Linked DNA regions of Homo sapiens. Each later gene encodes a partner of the first gene's protein in a complex. Each region holds a gene or a part of one and is shown on either strand. Other genes may lie near its edges. The genes, in order: USP39 and PRPF3.

Region 1 (3,820 bases):
TCAAGTAGAGTCCTTAGCAAGACTTGGTGTCTGAGGATCATCTGACTATACTCTACAAGAAGGCAGTAATTTCTTTTTTTGAGACGGAGGAGTTTCGCTCTTCTTGCCCAGGCTGGAGTGCAGTGACGTGATCTCAGCTCACTGCAACCTCCGCCTCCTGGGTTCAAGTGATTCTCCTGCCTCAGCCTCCCGAATAGCTGAGATTACAGGCATGCACCACCAAGCCCGGCTAATTTTGTATTTTTAGTAGAGATGGGGTTTCTCCATGTTGGCCAAGCTAGTCTCGAACTCCTGACCTCAGGTGATCCTCCCGCCTTGGCCTCCCAAAGTGCTGGGATTACAGGTATGAGCCACTGCGCCTGGCCGAAGGCAGTAATTTCTTGGCCAGTACACATACTATTTCCTGTCCCTCTCTTTTTTTTTTCTTGAAACAGAGTCTCACTGTTCCCCAGGCTGGAGTGCAGTGGCGCGATCTCGGGTCACTATAACCTCTGCCTCCCGGATTCAAGCGATTCTCCCACCTCAGCCTGCCAAATAGCTGGGACTACAGGCTTCCACCACCATATCTAGCTAATTTTTGTATTTTTAGTAGAGACAGGGTTTCTCCATGTTGGCCAGGCTGGCTCAAACTCTTGACCTCAGGCAATCCGCCTGCCTTGGCCTCCCAAAGTGCTGGGATTACAGGGGTGAGCCACTGTGCTCAGCCTTCTGGGTGTCCTTCTCTTCCTCAATGTTCCCGTCTTGATCTTACCTGAAGGACAGCGTTGGCATAATCATTGGCCTTTATGTTATTCAGTCCCACAATACCCGGCAGGTAAGTGGTACCATCATATGCCCGGGACAATTTGGCTTGCTTGTCCAAGTTTGCAATTTGCTGCTTTGTGAAAGTGGGCTTCAACACATACTGCAAAGCAAAAGAAAATGCTAAGTTGTTTAAGAGCTGAGTTCACAAGAAATGTCTGTAACAGTAATTTCTACAAAAACAAAAAACACTTGGCCATGAACATCCCACCACACACAGAAAAATAGTCCGAACCAGTAGGTGTAAAGATTGAAGTAACACGGAGTAGATCCTCTCCCATGGCTAATCTACAAGGGGATCTCTGTGTCTATCCCAAAATCACTGAATCCCAGGTCTTTTCGCCGACCTCAGGTCTGGTCAACTCATGAAAACTGACTGCCAGAAACCATACAATACTCAAGTTCCTAAAGGCAGTCTAAGTCTCAGATAGAACCTCCTGGGAGCAGCACATGGACCTAGCTTTGGAGCAGGAGAGTTTCCTCCACTCTGGGTGGGAATGAGGATCTCCATGAGTCCCTGGTACTGGAAGAGCAGGATCAGACTCTTCCCAGGCACAGAGTTACCACAGTCATTATGTCACAGACTGGACAGAGATCATCGCAAACTCACTTTGAAACACTGAATTTAGCCCAGTTTTTCCCTCTATAAATACTGACCATAACTTTTTTTTTTTTTTTTAGATGGAGTTTTGCTCTTGTTGCCTAGACTAGAGTGCCATGGCATGATCTTGGCTCACTGCAACCTCCCCCTCCCAGATTCAAGCAACTCTCCTGCCTCAGCCTCCCAAGTAGCTGGGATTACAGGCATGTGCCATCATGCCCGGCTAATTTTGTATTTCTAGTAGAAACGGGGTCTCATCATGTTGGTCAGGCTGGTCTCAAACTCCTGACCTCAAATGACCCACCTGCCTCGGCCTCCCAAAGTGCTGGGATTACAGGTGTGGGCCTCCCCACCAAGCCTGTCCATAACTATTTTAATCTCAACTATTAATAATAGGCTTATACAACTTTTACAAGTAGAAAAAGCAGTATTTCAAAGACTAAATACCACGTTTTCCTTAAAAATAAACAGAGCATGAACAACTTAGGCAATGCAGTGAGACTCCATCTCTACAAAAAATTTTAAAAATGTATCTGGGCATGATGGTAACGCCTACAGTCCTAGCTACTTGGGAAGCTGAAGTAAAAGTATCACTTGAACCCATGAGGTCGAGGCTGCAGTGAGCTGTGATGGCACCACTGCACTCCAGCCTGAGCGACAAAGTGAGACCCTGTCTCAAAAAAAAAACCAAAAACAAGAACAGAGCACATGGCACCATGAATACACCCCACGTGCTGAAAAGGAAAATAATAATCAAAAGCCCAACACTAATCAAACCCAAGAGGACTTTCCATGCTCAGTACAATGAGTGTCTCTTGGCACAGGTCACAAACTAGAGCCCACAGATAAGATATCTGTGGCTGGATGCTCTGGCCACGGCGTATGTTAAAAGCAGCCAGGAGCCGGTGTGCAGCTTGGTAAATACTGTCCTACACCAGGACCAATTCATATCCCTACTTCACAGTGTAGAAGAATAATTTCACAAAAACACTTTAAACCCCATCAGAATACACCCATATTTCTTCAGTCCTAGCCCTCAATGTTACAAGTAGAAATGACAGTTAAGTTACAGACTACAGGCTGCAATTATGAATTCTGACCTTACTCAGTTTCCCCAGTTCTTCCCAAAAGAGAAAGCAGCCTCTCGATGCCTAAAGGGACTGAGATTCTTCCCTGTCCTCAGGTGGGGCAGTCCCCTGGGAGCCCTGGGATGGCTCATTAAAGAATGGACCCCAAACCAACCCTCTTAGACACACACCGTGATATCCTCCAATGAGGAATCGATGATCTCATAGTTGTCTGGAAGGCAGTAAAACTTGAGGGTGTGGAGGTTGAGGAAAACATGGTGGCTAAACTGGACACTGTGAATGTAGGCGTGAGACTTCAAACCCCGGCCTGTAGGGAAGGGTGAAAAGCTGTAATAGAAGGGCAGATACTAGAACACACAGATCAGGTTTGCTTTTCCTTTCATTATTTTCTACCGGAACATGTTAATATCCGCAAAAAACAAATATTATGCCATTCATAAAATGAATCCTCCACATGAAGTTCTCTCATAAAAAAATTAGCAAGAAAGACTAGCACATTAGTTACTTCATTCTCTAAATGGCCTAAGACATTGATTAGGGAAACAAATTTCACTATTTTTTAATATATATGTAAAATATATATAACCTATATATATATCTATATATAATACATATAACTATATATTCATACATAGTTTCCTATATACATGAAACTAGAAATATCTATGCATATATGTGTGCATAAATACACATAAACATAAATACATACATATCCTATGACAGTCCATCATCACTCAGTCCTGGATTTCCAAATGCCCATATTCAGGACAATGCTTTATCTATGTAACTTTTTTCATGTTGCTACTCCTTTCTAGAATCTCTCTCCCTTAACCATTCAAATTCTATGTCCTGCCAATTCAAGTCCCACCTCAGCTCTTCCATGAACTCAACATAAACACTCCAGCTAACATTGATTTTTGCACATTCAACTCCTATTGCACTTATTTTTACTCCGTGCCACAGTCCAGCAGTAATCTTTATGATCTAACAGAACTCACTGGTTGTTTTACATGTCAACCTTGACTCCTTATAAGCTCCTTACGAGAGCAAAGAATACAGTTTTTATCTCTTTTTTTGAGACAGGGTCTTGCTATGTTAGCCAGGTGGGTCTTGAACTCTTGACTTTAAACAATCCTCCTCCTCGGCCTCCCAAAATGCTAGGATTAGGTGTGTAAACCACTGTGCCCAGCTGTTTTTACCTCATTTGAATCCTCCACTATACTATGTACATGGCATCTGCTTGGTGTGAATGAGTTGAAATGATAAATTTTCAGAAAAAAATGGAATAAAAAAAGTCCTTTGAGCTAAAGAATATTCCAAAAAAAAAAAA
Region 2 (3,820 bases), on another chromosome or scaffold:
CATGTCTTCTGATGGCTTTTCCTTTAGTTGTTGCTTGAATTGTTCCCTCTTCACAGCACGAATATTGGCTTTCAGAGTAGGCATGCGGTGTGTCAGCTCAATCTCCTTGCCTGTTGCATCTACAGTGCGCCCTTGCTCATCCAGGATCAGTGGTGTAGGTTTCGTTTGGTCTTTTAACTCCACCTTCCTGAAAAATAGCCCGCAAAGAAATAAATCCTGTATGGAACATTAAGGCAAGCAAAAAACAAAATAAAGCCAGGCGTGGTGGCTCAAGCCTGGAACCACAGCATTTTGGGAGGCCAAGGCAGAGGGATCACTTGAGCCCAGGAGTTAAAGACCAGTCTGGCCAACACAAGGAGACTGCATCTCAACAAAAAATTTAAAATTAGCTGGGTGCGGTGGCATATACCTGTGGTCCCACCTACTCAGGAGGTTGAGGAGGATCACTTGAGCCCAGGAAGTTGAGGCTGCAGTGCCTTCTCTATAAGAGTTATTTGGATGGACGGGTGTGGTGGCTCACACTGTAATCCCAGCACTTTGGGAGGCTGAGGCGGGTGGATGGCTTGAGCCCAGGAGTTCAAGACCAGCCTTGGCAACACAGTGAAACCCCATCTCTACAAAAAATACAAAATTTAGACGGGCACTTGTAGTCCCAGCTACTGAACCTGGGAGGCAGAGGTTGCAGGGAGCCGAGATCACTGCACTCCAGCCTGGGTGACAGAGTGAGACTCCCTCTCAACAACAACAACAACAAAAAGGACAATAAAATAATTCTAGGGAACAATCTCATCAGTGAGCAATACCATCTTTTTTTTTGAGACATGGTCTCACTCTGCTGCCCAGGCTAAAGTACAGTGGCACAATCACAGCTCATTGCAACCTCAACCTCCCAGGCCCAAAGAAATTCTCCCACCTCAGCCTCCTAAGTAGCTGGAACTACACGCATGCTCTACCATGCCTGGCTAATTTTTGTATATTTTAGAGAGATGGGGTTTTGCCATGTTGCCTAGGCTGGTCTTGAACTCCTGAGCTCAAGCAATCTGCCAGTCTCGGCCTCCCAAAGTGCTGGGATTACAGGTGTGAGCCACCGCGCCCTGCCAATAGTATCTTGATTAAAAATATCAAAGTGGATATTTCAGTATACAGGACAACCAAATGAAATGAGTTTATAAATTATATGAATTTATAATCCTATCTTTCCTTATCCCTGAATTCTTATGTCACTCATGGGATGCCAGACCAACTGTAGATGCTAAAAAAAATGTAACATCTTTGACCAGTTGCAGAGGAACCTCAGATCTAGTCTCACACAATGTGGTTTAATGGATAAATCTGAGTTTGAAACCAGGAAGGAAACCTGGCTATACTCCTAGCTCCAACATTAGATGAATAACCTTAATCTCAGTTATATAAATCATAAGAAGATAATAAACCCTCCAACAGGGAAGACGAGAAAAAATTCAACTGGTTAATCAATCACACCTAAGAAATATGAAACTGTGAGAAATGATCTAGGTTCTGTGGAAAAAGAGGATCAGTAATATTTTGTTTGTTGTTTTCTTTGAGCCGGAGTCTCCCTCTGTCACCCACGCAGTGGCACGATCTCAGCTCACTGCAACCTCTGCCTCCTGTGTTCAAGCGATTCTCCTGCCTCAGCCTCCCGAGTAGCTGGGATTACAGGCATGCACCACCACGCCTGGCTAATTTTTGTATTTTTAGTAGAGATGGGTTTTCACCATATTGGCCAGGCTGGTCTCGAACTCCTGACTCCTGACCTCAGGTGATCCACCTACCTCAGCCTCCCAAAGTGCTACGATTACAGGCCTGAGGCACTGCGCCCAGCCAGATCAGTAACATTCAAAGGTATTTATTGCTTCTCAAACTTCAGAAATGAAAAGGTATTCCATGAAATAGACACTCACGGGGGAGCAATGCCCATGGCATGGAGATTAGCCAGGCCCACCATGTTGGCATTGCCGATGAGTCCTGGCTTCAGTGCCAGCTGGGCTTGGATTCGAGCTTGCAGTTCAGCTGCTTTCCTTGCCTTCTCAATGGCATCATTCATGAAAGTGGCAGCCTGGGAGGGCTGAATAGTGTTGCCAATAGGAAGTCGTTCTGGTTGGGAGGAAGAAGGAGTCTTTGGCTGTGAGATAGAGAAAAAGAAATCAGAGGAATTAAGACAGGCAGACAAACACACATACATACACACAGATATACACACACATCATGGTAGACTGTAGCAGATGATTATGAAGTGAAACATGTAGTCACCTCTTCTAGTCTCTCATTTTGAGTGGATGGCAAGAAATTCTGTGCCAAAGATTATTCTGTTCAGAGTAATCTAGACACAATACCTGAGGTGTAGGGGGGCTAATGAAGCTCAGCTGTTTTTTCCTCTCCTCGATTTGTCGTGTTGCTGCCTCCATCATCTGTTTGATCTGCTCTCCAGGAAAAAAATTGAAAAACTGTTAATTTCTCCTTCTTACTTCTCCCATTCAGGTTTTTAAACCCACAAGGCTCTCAGGTCTAGACACTTAAAATGTTTTGAATGACTATACCACATTCTGCCTGCACCACAGTGCAAAAAATTTAGTCAAGATAAGTGAGCACTGGAATTTTTCAACCCATGTTCCTAAAGCAAGATTAGCATATTAGGTAGTAATATAGTGTGATGATTGAGACTCTGGAGTCAGAGAAACCTGAGTTTGAATCTTAACTCTGCCACTTAATGCCTTTGTTATCTTGGATAAGGAACTTAGTCTCTAAACCTCCTAAGTGTCTAGAAGGGGGAAGAAAACAGTACCTACCTTACAGGTCTAGTGTTAACCACTTAAATAATGCATGCAAACCTAACAGAACCTACACAAAATATTATACTTAATTTTCTTTTTTTTTTTTGAGATGGAGTCTCGCTCTGTCACTCAGGCTGGAGTGCAGTGGTGCGATCTTGGCTCACTGCAAGCTCTGCCTCCCGGGTTCATGCCATTCTCCTGCCTCAGCATCCCGAGTAGCTGGGACTATAGGCGCCCACCACCACGCCCGGCTAATTTTTTGTATTTTTAGTAGAGATGGGGTTTCACCCTGTTAGCCAGGATGGTCTCGATCTCCTGACCTCGTGATCCGCCCACCTCGGCCTCTCAAAGTGCTGGGATTACAGGTGTGAGCCACCGCACCCAGCCTATACTTAATTTTTTTTAAAAAATCATGATATTAGTACTTGAACTACTAGTTTGGGAAACAAGAGACGATGGTGCAAAGACCTGCTCCCTAGTCTCTATAAACCCCTTCTGTCCTAAAGAAGTTCAGAATGATAAGCTTTGAGGGTATGGCCAAACAACTCCTCTTACATTTTGCAAAACAGACCTGTTCTTAAACTGCTTCAAGATATTTTTAAACATTTGTCTTTAACATTTTTTCTTGAATAGGTGATATATTCAAAATTCAAAAATTACGGAAGGGTCAGGCATGGTGGCTCACGCCTGTAATCCCAGCACTTTGAGAGGCTGAGGTGGGCGAATCACTTGAGGTCAGGAGCTGAAGACCAGCCTGGCTAACATGGTGAAACACCGTCTCTAGTAAAAATACAAAAATTAGCCGGGTGTGGTGGTGGGCGCCTGTAATGCCAGCTACTCAGGAGGCTGAGGCAGGAGAAGCGCTTGAATCCAGAAGGTGGAGGTTACAGTGAGCCAAGATCATGCCACTGCACTCCAGCCTGGACAACAGGGGGAGACTCCATCTCTAAATAAGTAAAGAAAGAAAGAAAATAAAAAAATTAAAAATTACAGGGCTGGGCGTGGTGGCTCACGCCTGTAATCCCAAT

The links.
Region 2: USP39 (region 1) and PRPF3 share a complex: the UniProt entries of both Homo sapiens proteins name them as parts of the U4/U6-U5 tri-snRNP complex.

The regions. Positions count from the first base shown.
Region 1 is NC_000002.12:85,622,623-85,626,442, reverse strand, and holds part of USP39 (ubiquitin carboxyl-terminal hydrolase 39), read right to left. Parts: intron 2,818-3,820; coding exon of another isoform or gene 2,798-2,817; coding exon 2,661-2,797; intron 905-2,660; coding exon 752-904; intron 1-751.
Region 2 is NC_000001.11:150,331,302-150,335,121, reverse strand, and holds part of PRPF3 (U4/U6 small nuclear ribonucleoprotein Prp3), read right to left. Parts: intron 2,439-3,820; coding exon 2,355-2,438; intron 2,144-2,354; coding exon 1,923-2,143; intron 188-1,922; coding exon 1-187. UniProt on the Homo sapiens protein: Plays a role in pre-mRNA splicing as component of the U4/U6-U5 tri-snRNP complex that is involved in spliceosome assembly, and as component of the precatalytic spliceosome (spliceosome B complex).